Linked DNA regions of Homo sapiens. The protein of the gene in region 2 interacts with the protein of the main gene of each other region in a biochemical or structural test. Each region holds a gene or a part of one and is shown on either strand. Other genes may lie near its edges.

Evidence for each region. The genes of interacting proteins can lie anywhere in the genome.
Region 1: the proteins of XRCC1 (region 2) and APTX form a complex in vitro, tested with the Homo sapiens proteins (2 studies listed by BioGRID).

Annotation. Positions count from the first base shown.
Region 1 is NC_000009.12:32,972,099-32,977,642, forward strand, and holds the end of APTX (aprataxin), read right to left. Parts: intron 5,105-5,544; exon of another isoform or gene 4,291-5,104; intron 2,464-4,290; coding exon 2,360-2,463; intron 1,591-2,359; coding exon of another isoform or gene 1,586-1,590; exon of another isoform or gene 1,555-1,585; coding exon 1,400-1,554; 3' UTR 518-1,399; downstream 1-517. UniProt on the Homo sapiens protein: DNA-binding protein involved in single-strand DNA break repair, double-strand DNA break repair and base excision repair.
Region 2 is NC_000019.10:43,544,517-43,551,547, forward strand, and holds part of XRCC1 (DNA repair protein XRCC1), read right to left. Parts: intron 2,462-7,031; coding exon 2,368-2,461; intron 2,212-2,367; coding exon 2,079-2,211; intron 1,591-2,078; coding exon 1,536-1,590; intron 1,442-1,535; coding exon 1,302-1,441; intron 1-1,301. UniProt on the Homo sapiens protein: Scaffold protein involved in DNA single-strand break repair by mediating the assembly of DNA break repair protein complexes. Negatively regulates ADP-ribosyltransferase activity of PARP1 during base-excision repair in order to prevent excessive PARP1 activity.

The DNA.
Region 1 (5,544 bases), on a different chromosome or scaffold from region 2:
AGTCTTGCATTTATACTGTTCAATTGATAAGAAAAATAATGAGTTGATGCATCAGAATCAATACCAACTTTGGATAGTGCCCAGGAACCATTGTAGAATATTAGATGCTCATCCACTAAAGGGGCATAACAATAGCACGTAACCTCATAGAGTTATGTACAGTGAGAATTCAATGAGATCACTTGAGTACAGTGTTTAGCATAATGCAGGACACACAGGAGTCAGACAAATGTGAGCTGCTATGATCATTAATTATATAATTATTACTATACCTATGTTCACTAAGTAACCACTGTGGCATCTTGTTTGTTTGTGAAAGACATTGAGGTCAAATGTCTCTATGGACTGTGGCTTTTTCTCTCCAGAAGAAGCTTTTGTTAAGGGTGTTTCCTTTTTTCTCACAACTTGAGTGAAAAGTCACATCCCCAAAGATATCCACAATTTCATCAAACCCAACTTTTTAGTTTTCCCTTCACCTTTAGTTCTAATATTATCCCAAAAAACAACTGAATACAACTGTTTTATCCAAATTTATTCTCAGGGAAAAAGAAAGTAGTGGCTCTACGCAACTTTTTCATTCACCAACCACCTTTCCATGCATCAGAACCTATGCTGTGATTGTTAGCTGAACTTCAATAGTTTCCACCTACTTAAGAGAGATGCCTCAAACAAATTAACTTTATTTTCAGACAACAGGTCCAAGAAGACTTCACAGCTCAATCATGACGAACATGTGGCTGTTTCCTCACAGCCAGGAACCCTCGGTATTAGAAGAAAACTCCAACCCCCCACACCATCATCTAGCCTCTTTTCTCACTGTGAAGAACTGATGAGACAGAATTCCTGAGAAGGGAACATTTAGGTAATCTGGGATAGAAGGGCATGGAAGGACTGGACAAACTAAGCCTCCCCATGAAGGAAGGGAAAAGAATATTACAAAACAGACTAACAGAAAACAAGACCCATCAGTATCTTCAGGATAAACAAGAGGCCACTCTAGATGCTCTGATTAAAGGTTGTCCATGCCTACAGAGGCGGAGGATAAATCTAAGAAACAGAAATGTATAACCAGCCCAATGCTTCCATACTCTGCATTAGGTCAGTGTGAACATGGCTTTGCTCCCAATGGTCAGACCTGACATGGGTCCTTCTGAAGATGGTGGGTCAGGTATATCCCAGCCACCCTCACCAGAGAATACATCTATGACAAACCCAAATTCCTAATCCTGAAGTACTTTGAGCCACTCTACATTGTGGCCACTCAATAATAGAATAAATTTGTGAAAAAGCTGCATGTTTTAATTTAGGAAATGAGTAGAAGTTCACAAGCAACCCAGAATAGGTGCCAGCAGTTTGCTCCAGTGGGCCACACCACAGCAGCAGCTCAGGCTCTGCAGAATCACTGTGTCCAGTGCTTCCTGAGATGTTCTTTCAGCTGAGGAATGGAAGGCAGCAGCTGCTGGCACTCATGACAACGAAGGGGCAGCTTCAAGAGCTCAGGCATCCCATCTCGGACAGTTACTCTACCAGCCTCTTGTACCATCTCGATCACAGCTGCAGGCAAGGAAGAAAAGTCAAATCCCAGCTACTCTGGAAAACCAATATGAGATACCAAAAAAAAAAAAAAAAAATCAAAAACGTGACTCCAATCAGTATGCCAGGCCAGGTATTCTACAGCTCCGTAAGCTTAGTTTAGACTTCCCTCAGGCAAAATGAGCTTAATCAGATTATAAATATGAGCAACCCACCTTTGAAATAATACACTCCTTCAGGACACACTCTAGGCAATCCATGTTACTCTGTCAAGAGCTCATCAGAGTGCTTTACCTCTGGTTGGCCCTTGGTAAATGCCAGCTGCCATTGTGAACACCCCATCAATGCTTAAGTTCTTACACACCAGGAAATGCTTTCCTGGTGTGTAAGAAAGCATCACACACCAGAAAATGCTTTCTTCTACATATACACAGGGTTCCCCCTGCTAATTCACCACTCCTGACAGGAGGCAGCCCCAAAGCTCCCACCCAACTGATGGCAGAAGAGACAAAGAATTGTCCACAGCTTTCTTATCCATGAACTCCACTAATTCTCACGGCAGCCTTTAAGTCCCCTTTTGTCACAATAAAACACTGACCCTGACATAATAGCTTTCTAGGTCCCCCAAGAAGACAACTCACAGCAAAGTGGCAATAATACTACAATCCAAATAATCCAGTTTCTTTTCACAGGGCTCGCTTTATAGGGAACACAAAGTTGTACATAGGTTTTTGAGGTCAGACTGTTATTCAGGGAAACAACCAAATCAAATATAAGAACAGCTCAGAAAATGAAACAAATGTGAAAACCAAGGAACACTGTTTACCTTGTGATTCTAGGAAGTATTCTGTATTGAAAGAATTCCAATGTTTTTTGTTTTTAAGGCAAGGAGAATCAAAATCCTGGCTGATCACATGAAGATGTACATGGCTAGTTGAAAGAAAAAAAAACTGAGCATTAAACTCTTTAACAACTATGGCTTAATCAAAATGACAAAGAGTATGAGTACATTGTATATTCATACTATTGAATACTCTTTGAATATTCATACTATTGAAGTGATAGTGTGTCCATTTAATTCAATTGATTCATTCATTTACTTAAGAATATTTAATGCTCAATAAGTATGTACTATGGCCAAACACTGTTCCAGGCACTGAGACTTTAGCAAGAAACAAAATGGGAAAAGCCTCTGCCCTTATAGAAATTGTACGCTAATGAGGAAAGACAAATAATAAATAAGCAAACAAATAAACAAACAAAAAAAAACTTAAAGAATTAACATTGCCAAGAAAAAATAAACAAGGAAAATGGGATAGAGTGCCCAGGGGTAGAAGCTGCCCTCTTTAGTTAACAGTGTTCAGGGAAAGCATCTCCCGGGAAGTGATTTGAACGGAGACAGCACCCAAGCAAGCTAGGTCTGTGGGAAGAGTGTCTCAGAAAGTGAGGAGGCCAAGAGCAGGGGCCCTGAGATGAGGAAAAGCTCAGTGCAACCAAGAAAGAGAAAGAAGGTAATATGGCCCAAATGTATGGCCTGAATTGTTGGAGCCAAGCAGCAGAAACGAGGCAGGAGCCAGGTCATAAAGCCTCTTAAAGGTGACAAAGGGTTTGCATTCTATTCTGAATCTACTGGGAAGCCATTGAAGGATTTTCAGCCGAAGAGTGCTACTATCTGATTTATACTCTTTTTTTTTGTTAACAATAAAAATTGAATTATAAAATGGACCACAATTTAAAAGTGGGCCTATTTTAATTTTATTATTCTTAAATTCATTCTTTTGAAAATGCAACCAGGTGCGGCGGCTCACGCCTGTAATCCCAGCACTTTGGGAGGCCGAGGCAGGTGGATCACTTGAGGTCAGGAGTTCAAGAACAGCCTGCCCAACATGGTGAAACTAACTACTAAAAATACAAAAAACTAACTGGGCGTGGTGGCAGGTGCCTGTAATCCCAGCTACTTGGGAGGCTGAGGCAGGAGAATCACTTGAACCTAGGAGGTGGAGGTTGCAGTGAGCTGAGATCATGCTACTGCACTCCAACCTGGGTGACAAAGTTAGACTCCATCACTAAAAAAAGAAGAAAAAGAAAAAGAAAATGCACTTTATTTTTGAAATGATAAAAGATTTAACTATGAGCTGACAAAGTAGAGGTCGGCTGACATTAGTGGGTCAACTCTTCATGTAGATATTTAAATGCTGTTTTTTCTGTATTACATCAAAATGATTTGCAATAGGAAATTGGAAAAGGGGAGCAAAGCAGAGTGCAAAGCATATACTGAGGTCTTTCCATGGGTATCTGATAGAATGCAGATTCAGCACAATAAAATGTAGACTGCAGCAGTGGCCTGTAAGTGTACTCCAAGCGTACCGTAAGAACCTATGTAAAAACCATTTTTTTCTTATTCCTAACAGAAAAACAAATTTTGTTTTGTTTAAACAATAAAATGTAATGGAAAGATCTGTACTGTAAAACTACTTGCTATAAACTATCACAAGGACAGAAAACCAAACACTGCATGTTCTCACTCATAGGTGGGAACTAAACAATGAGATCACTTGGACACAGGGCAGGGAACATCACATACCGGGGCCTGTCAGGGGGGTGGGGGGCTCGGGGAGGGACAACATTAAGAGAAATACCTAATGTAAATGATGAGTTGATGGGCGCAGCAAACCAACATGGCACATGTATACCTATGTATCAAACCTGCCTGTTGTGCACATGGACCCTAGAACTTGAGTATAATAAAAAAAAATAAAAACTACTTGCTGTAGCCCATGTGTTCAGTTTGTTCAACAACCTCACTCACACATGATGAATTACATGAATAGAAAGTCACCAAATAAGACTCAAGACAAAAAAATTATCTATCAACCTCCATATGAAAAGACCACAGCTTTAATGATTTATACAATCCTTAAGCTTAATATCTGGTCAGTATAGGTTTCCAAATCAAAATCAAGTCATAAGCTGTTACAATAACTGCATTATACTAACATTTTCTTTCCAGTATTTCTTCCTATGAGGGAAAAAAATCATCAGAAGCTTTCACTCTTGAAAAGCGTCCTAAACTAAAACAGTGTTCTTCTCCAAAACGAAAATACTCTACAAACAGTAAATAAAAGCTAAGCTAATTTCAACAGTCATATTTCCAAAAGTAAAATCTATTAAGTACAATACACCTGCACAAGAAATTACAAGAAATGATTACAGTTACAGATGCAAAATAACATCTAATTATCCCAGGCTTGTGAACATAATAATTAAAATCAAATTCATATGCTAGTCCAAATATTATGTACAATTTAGATAAGCTGGTCAAGTATTATTTGAATATACACCATATTTGTTAAACCTAAAATTATATTACCTTTTCTTGTCCTTTAATATTTGTAGATACACGCCAATATGAAAAAAAATGTAATTTCCATTTATGTATTAACAGAGAATTTCTACTGCACATGTTTTAAACCGTTAAAAAATAAAAAAGTCAAGGTACATTTTCACTTAAGAGATAAAAATAAATTACCAGAATTTTAATTGATAAAAGTTTCATATCAATTTATAAAAATGACCCAAGCACGTGGCTCATACCTGTAATCCCAGCTACTCAGGAGGCTGATGCAGGTGGATCACTTGAGGTCAGGAGTTCAACATTGGCCTGAGCAACATAGTGAGACCCTCATCTCTAAAAAATTGTTTTAATCAGCCAGGCATGGTGGCACACCCATAGCCCCAGCTACTCGGGAGGCTGAGGCAAAAGGATACCTGGAGCCGAGGAGTTCAAGGCCGCAGTGAGCTATGATCTTGACACTGTACTCCAGACTGGGAGAGAGGGTGAGACTCCCATCTCTTAAAACAAAAACGAAAACAAAAAATGAATAAAAAAATTCATTTATAAAAATGGGGGGGAAAAAACCTGGGTGCAGTGGCTCACACCTGTAATCCCAGTACTTTGGGGGGCCAAGGCAGGTGGATCATTTGAGGCCAGGAGTTCAAGACCAGCCTGGC
Region 2 (7,031 bases):
TTTTTTTTAAGACAAGGACTCACTCTGTCGCCCAGGCTGGAGTGCAGTGGCGTGATCTTGCCTCACTGCAACCTCTGCCTCCTGGGCTCAAGTGATTCTCCCATCTCAGCCTCCCCAGTAGCTGGGACTACAGGTGCATGCCACCAAGCCAGACTAATTTTTAAACTTTTTGTAGAGAGACGGGGTATTGACATGTTGCTCAGGCTGGTCTCAAACTCTTGGGCTCAAGCAATCCTCCCACCTCAGCCTCCTGAGTAGCCAGGACTACTGAGTAGCACACCACCACGCTCGGCTAATTTTTAAAATGTTTTGTAAAGGCGGGGGTCGGGGGGGGTCTCACTATGTTGCCCAGGCTGGTCTTGAACTCTTGGACTCAAGCAGTCCTCCCACCTCGGCCTCTCAAAGTACGGGGTGAGCCACCACGCCTGGCCTGCCTGGAGCCACTTAATGAGCTTAGTCCAGGCTGAAAACGTCAGTATCTGCCACTTCTTCACCTTTGCTCTCCTTTCCAACCAGTGCCTTTCTTGTTCTGACCTTTGGGGTGGCTCCTTCTTTCCATTTTAAGGTGACTCTCTAGGCCATCAATTTGCTGATGCCACTTTAGGGGCTTGGGAGAATCAAAGCATCTTCCTGCCCATCACCCACGAGGAACTGGGTGGAAACGGCTCTTCTGGAAGCCCCAGAACCACACCTCTGCACAGCCCGTGACTGTCTTTCCTCTGCTCCCTTCATTCTCGAAGAAGCTCTGCCTCCCTGCCCCTCATCCCACAACTCCCTGCAGAGTTTCCCCATTTCCTTTTGTTCTTATTCTTTTACACTGGAAATGCAAACACACAATGTGTGCAGACAGCATCCACGTCCAGAGTGATGGCTGATGTTAAAGCAGACACTGGTGTGCACCCACCCAGGGCCTGACAGAGAGCAGTGCCCCTGTCACCTGGTGTGCCCGGCTTCACCCCAGACCAACAGAACGGCACCTGAGCAAGTGAAGCACTAGCATGAGGGTGGGGCCCTCACCCCTGACGTGAAAAAAAGGAGGTCACACCTGGCACATGGCTGCGAGGGGAGTGGTCAGAACAAGAAATCTGGAGGGGAGAAAAAGGCAAGTCACAGAGAGGATGCTGAAAGGAAAGGAACAAGCCTGGCAGAACCTGAAGGTGCTGAGGCAGGGAGTGGGTTGAGGAAGGAGAGGGGAGGCAAGACACGGGGGCAGCAGTGACCCCAGGGCTGGCCAGGGCAAGTCCCAGCTGAGAACTGAGAAGAGAAAATGCCACTTCAGGAGGGATGGGGGGATTTCCCACCTGGGAGCTCAGGGACTGGCAGATCAGGAGGCTCCTGGTGTTCCTCACTGTCCGTGTTCTCATCCGTGGAGCCTGCATACGGGTCTTCCCCATTCTCCTCCTGGCCAGGGGGCAGTCTGTGTTCCTTCTGCTCTGCCACCCTGGGGGTGCCAAGAGGAGTAGAGAGTGAGCATGCAGAGCAGCCTCCCCTACACCCAAGGCCAGGGACACCCCAACCCCCAGCCCCAGCCCTACCTCCTCAGCTCATCCTCTGTGTCCCCAGAATCTTCCGCCCCATTGTCCTGTCCTTCTGCAAGTAGAAGCTCAGTCAATGCAAGGCTGCCTTGTCTCCTGGGAAGACTGGCAGCTCTCCCAGTATGGCACAGACCCAGGCATCTCATGCCCCCAGCCTCAACTGCCCTCCAGATCCAGTCGTCTGGGCCCCCAGCCCCTCCTCCCTCTGATCCAGGAGTCCAGGCCCCAGCCCCTCCTCCCTCAGACCCAGGAGTCCAGGACTCAGCCCTTCCTCCCTCAGACACAGGAGTCCAGCCCCCAGCCCCTCCTCCCTCAGACCCAGAAGCCCAGGCCCCCAGCCCCTCCTCCCTCAGACCCAGGAGTCCAGGCCCCCAGCCCCTCATCCCTCAGACCCAGGAGTCCAGGTCCCCAGGCTCTCTTCCCTCAGACTCAGGAGTCCAGGCCCCAGCCCCTCCTCCCTCAGACTCAGGAGCCCAGGCCGCAGGCCCTCCTCCCTCAGACTCAGGAGCCCAGGCCCCAGCCCCTCCTCCCTCAGAGTCTGACCTGACTGTACCCCCTCAATGTCTATATCTTCCTGGAGCACTGGTGAGGCTGCTTTGGTCTCTTCAGGGGTTGGGGGCTTCTGGGGTGAGCTGGGTCCAGCTGCCTGAGTGGGCTTGGTTTTGGTCTGGGGTTGCTAAGGAGGGAGAGTGGGTGGGTGAGGAGGGCAGGAACAGTGTGGGTGTGTTGGGGGGGTACCTGCAAGAGGCAAGAGTGGGAAGTTTGGGGTGCCACAGCGGACTCATGTCATCCTCCCACTACACCCTCCCCCACTGGACAGGGGGCATCAGACCTTCTGAGGAAGCTTGGGGGCTTCATCTCCGCTGCCACCGCTGTGAGAGGCCTCATCCTCCTCACTGCTGGAACCTGGCCCTGCCATGAGGTACCTAGGGGACAAATCGGGCCTCAGACAAACAGGCCCAAGGGAAGTGGGGAGGGCGTTCAGGAGGCAACAGCCATTGGCATTTACTAAAATACTCACTCTAGTGGGCCTCATGGTCTTGTTCCCAGCCCATTCTCTCCCAGCTCAGGAAGGCCCCAGTGAACCCAGTCAGTCTGGCCACCTGCCCTGCAGACCTGGGTACCCCCTTTCTTCCCCTCCCTCTTTTTTTTTTTGAGACAGAGTCCATTCCATCGCCAGGCTGGAGTGCAGTGGCCTCATCTCGGCTCACTGCAATCTCTGCCTCCAGGTTCGAGCGACTCCCCTGCCTCAGCCTCCCTAGTAGCTGGGATTACAGGTGCACACCACCATGCCCCGCCAACTTTTTGTATTTTAGTAGAGACACGGTTTCACCATGTTGGCCAGGATGGTCTCGATCTCCTGACCTCATGCTCTGCCCCCGTCAGCCTCTGAAAGTGCTGGAATTACAGGCGTTAGCCACCACTCCTGGCCGCTTTTTTTTTTTTTTAGACAAGATCTCACTCTGTCACCCAGGATAGAGTGCAGTGGCGTGATCTTGGCTCACTGCAACCTCCACCTCCCAGGGTTCGAGCGAGTCTCCTGCCTCAGCCTCCCCAGTAACTGCGATTACAGGCATGTGCCACCACGCCTGGCTAATTTTGTGTTTTTTGTGTTGTTTTGTTTTTTAAGTACATACGAGGTTTCATCACGTTGGCCAGGATGGTCTCGAACTCCTGACCTCGAGTGATCCACCCACCTCAGCCTCCCAAAGTGCTGGGATTACAGGCATGAACCACAGTACCCAGAATTCCCCTCCCTCTTGGGGAAGAAATGTCTCAATTCAGAAAGGAATGAAAAATCAGAACTTTCTCCTTTAAGAATCAAAGGCAGTTTCTCATTAGGAAAATACCCACCATTTAAGGGGAAAATCTCAAAGCAAACACATTTTAAAGACTACAACACTATAATCATGGTTCCTTAAGCCACTAACATTCCAGGAAAAGGATTTTCCTAGCTCTAACAACAGTAGCAGGTTCCCGTCCGGGAGGGAGGTGGGGGGCCAGCCGCCCCGTCGGGGGGGAGGTGGGGGGCCAGCCGCCCCATCCGGGAGGGAGGTGGGGGGGTCAGCCCCCGCCCGGCCAGCCGCCCCTCCAGGAGGGAGGTGGGGGGCGCCTCCGCCCGGCCGCCGCCCCGTCCGGGAGGTGGGGGGCGCCTCTGCCCGGCCGCCCCTTCTGGGAAGTGAGGAGCCCCTCTGCCTGGCCACCACCCCGTCTGGGAGGTGTACCCAACAGCTCATTGAGAACGGGCCATGATGACGATGGCGGTTTTGTGGAATAGAAAAGGGGGAAAGGTGGGGAAAAGATAGAGAAATCAGATTGTTGCTGTGTCTGTGTAGAAAGAAGTAGACATGGGAGACTTCATTTTGTTCTGTACTAAGAAAAATTCTTCTGCCTTGGGATGCTGTTAATCTATGACCTTACCCTCAACCCTGTGCTCTCTGAAACATGTGTTGTGTCCACTCAGGGTTAAATGGATTAAGGGCGGTGCAAGATGTGCTTTGTTAAACAGATGCTTGAAGGCAGCATGCTCATTAAGAGTCATCACCACTCCCTAATCTCAAGTACCCAGGGACACAAACACTGCGGAAGGCCGCAGGGTCCTCTGCCTAGGAAAGCCAGAGACCTTTGTTCACTTGTTTATCTGCTGACCTTCCCTTCACTATTGTCCTATGACCCTGCCAAATCCCCCTCTGTGAGAAACACCCAAGAATGATCAAAAAAAAAAAAAAAAAAAACACAACAGTAGCAGGTTGACACTTACATGGGACTTCCTACATGCCAGGTAGCACGTGACAAATACTGAGTCACTGAATCCTGGGGTAGGTCCTATTTTTGGCCCCATTTTACAGGTGAGGAGACTAAGGCACAGAGAGATTATTTAATCTGCCCTAAGCCACAGGGAAGGTATGCAGACACAAATGAATGTATTAGCTCCATTTTTCTGAGACATACATGTTAAGACCCTTCTGCATTTAATTTGGTTGTTTTCAAGCTGGTGAAATGCTGTTTAGGTAAGTCACACTCATAAAACGGTGCCTACAGGAGATTCAGAGGATTTAAAATGTAGTAGTTCATTAACAGTCAATAGCAGGTTTACTTAACTTTTTCTTCAAAGTGCTCTATTCAAAGATTAAAAAAAAAACTAAATTTGTGCTTATTAGGTATGGAGAGTCATCCTCTTGGGGTCTTCCTTCTATAGTTGAATTTTTATTTTATTTTTATTTTTTGAGACAGAGTCTCGCTCTGTCCCCAGGCTGGAGTGCAGTGGCATGATCTCGACTCACTTCAACCCCTTCCTCCCAGGTTCAAGGGATTCTCCTGCCTCAGCCTCTAGAGTAGCTGGGGCTACAGGTGTGCGCCACCATGCCCAGCTAATTTTTGTATTTTTTGGTACAGATGGGGTTTTACCATGTTGGCCAGGCTGGTCTCAAACTCCTGATGTCACGTGATCTGCCCACCTTGGCCTCCCAAAGTGCTGGGATTACAGGCGTGAGCCACTGCACTCAGCCAAATTTTTATTTTTGAGATAAGGTCTTGATTTGCCACCTAGACTGGAGTGCAGCGGTGCAATCATGGCTCATTGCAGCCTGAACCTCCTGGGCTCAAGTGATCCTACCACCTCAGCCTCCCAAGTATCTACGACTACAGGTATGTGCCACCACACCTGGATAATTTTTTTCATGTTTTGTAGGGATGGGGTCTCACCACGTTGCCTGCATCATATAGTTATTTTTTTTTAGTTTATAAATGAGTACAAGCCAGAATTTTTAAAAATATAAAATGCTTTGTGAATTCTTTTTGTTAAGACCAGTTGCAAATCCAACACTGTTTGTCTTTTTCCCTTTCTTTCATGCCCTCCTTAAGCTCTCCCAGGCAGATAATAACCCAAATCTGGTTCCTTCTGCCCCAGATATAGCACCAGCCCATCCCCTCTTCTGTTCCTGAGGCCCCAGCCTACTCAGGAGTCCCCACCTGCAGCCTCCCCTTGACACTTCATCCCTCCCAACAGAGCCTGCCCCTGCCCCCATCAAACCTTCTGTGACTCCCCTCTGCTCACAAGAGGAGGCCTCTGGAGCTGGATGGGCTTCAGAATTTTGAATCTTTCAGGTTTTAGAGAGGCAAATGGCTGGCATACAGATTGTTACATAAACTCCCAGGAGGGCCTGGGGGAGCACCCCATGATCAAACCCACTAATATTTCTGCAGTTAAGACCATGACACACTTAAGGGGATAAAAAAAAAAAAGTCCGCAAATAGCCTCACATTAGTTCAGGATGACTGCAGCGAAATGAGTTTGTGCTGAACCTAGAAAAGAACTTTCAGCTTCTAGAGATGTTTGGATTCCTGAATAACAGATGAGGGTTCTGTGAAGCTGCATGGAGCCCAGTGTGTAGCCTGGGCTCCGGAAGCCCCTTCTGACCTGAGCCCACCCACCTCACAGCCTCGCTATCCCCCAAGGCAAATAATTTCTCAAATACACCAGGTACAACTAACTTCTGAACACACTCAGGCCATGGAGTACAATCCAGTCTCCCCTCCAATTCATGGACCTCAGATATGAGCTAGCCTTTGCTCAGTCCAAAGCCTTCTGTGGTTCCTAATGCCCCAGTCCCATTTTTCCTGCCACTTCTTGCCCCTGTGTAAGCTCAGCCTCACCTACAACTCCAGGCAGACAACAGGCTGACCTGACCTTGTCTCCTCTGCCCAGCATGTTCTCTGCCTCTGTTCAGCCTGAAAAACCTCTCTTGGACCTTGAAGACCCCTCGCTCTCTGCGGGCCACCCTGTGGGGCTTCCACTGCACTGTTACAACAATTCTGATCCCTCATCAAAGTGAGAAGCCTTCAAGGGCAGGGCTCAATGACTGGATCCTCAGCCTTGCACATTCCAGCCTGGCACCAAGCAGGGGCTTCTGGGACTCATTTTGGTTTTTGGGTTTTTTTTTTCTTGTTGAGATGGGAGTCTCGCTCTGTCACCCAGGCCAGAGTGCAGTGGCACGATTTTGGCTTCCAGGTTCAAGCGATTCTCCTGCCTCAGCCTTCCGAGTAACTGGGATTACAGGCGTGCGCCACCAAGCCCAGCTAATTTTTGTGTTTTTAGTAGAGATGGGGTTTCACCATGTTGGCCAGGCTGGTCTCGAACTTCTGACCTCAAGTGATCCACCTGCCTCAGCCTCCCAGAGTGCTGGGATTACAGGCGTGAGCCACTGCACCGGGACTCACTTTGAATGAATGAATATGGACCCTAACACTTGTTCTCCCACCCCTGAGTTTTTGCACAAACTGCTCCTCCAGCCTTTTCTGATAAGCAGGCTTCACAGAGCCCTCTGTGACCTCCCAGGCAGGTCCTCCTTCCCTCATCTGGAGTACCCCAGCCCCTGCCCCGCTCCTCTCAGTAGTCTGCTGGCTCTGGGCTGGGACCACCTGTGTTCTCCGCTGGCAGGCCCCAGTCTGACTCCCCTCCAGATTCCTGGCATTGCCCAGCACAGGATAAGGAGC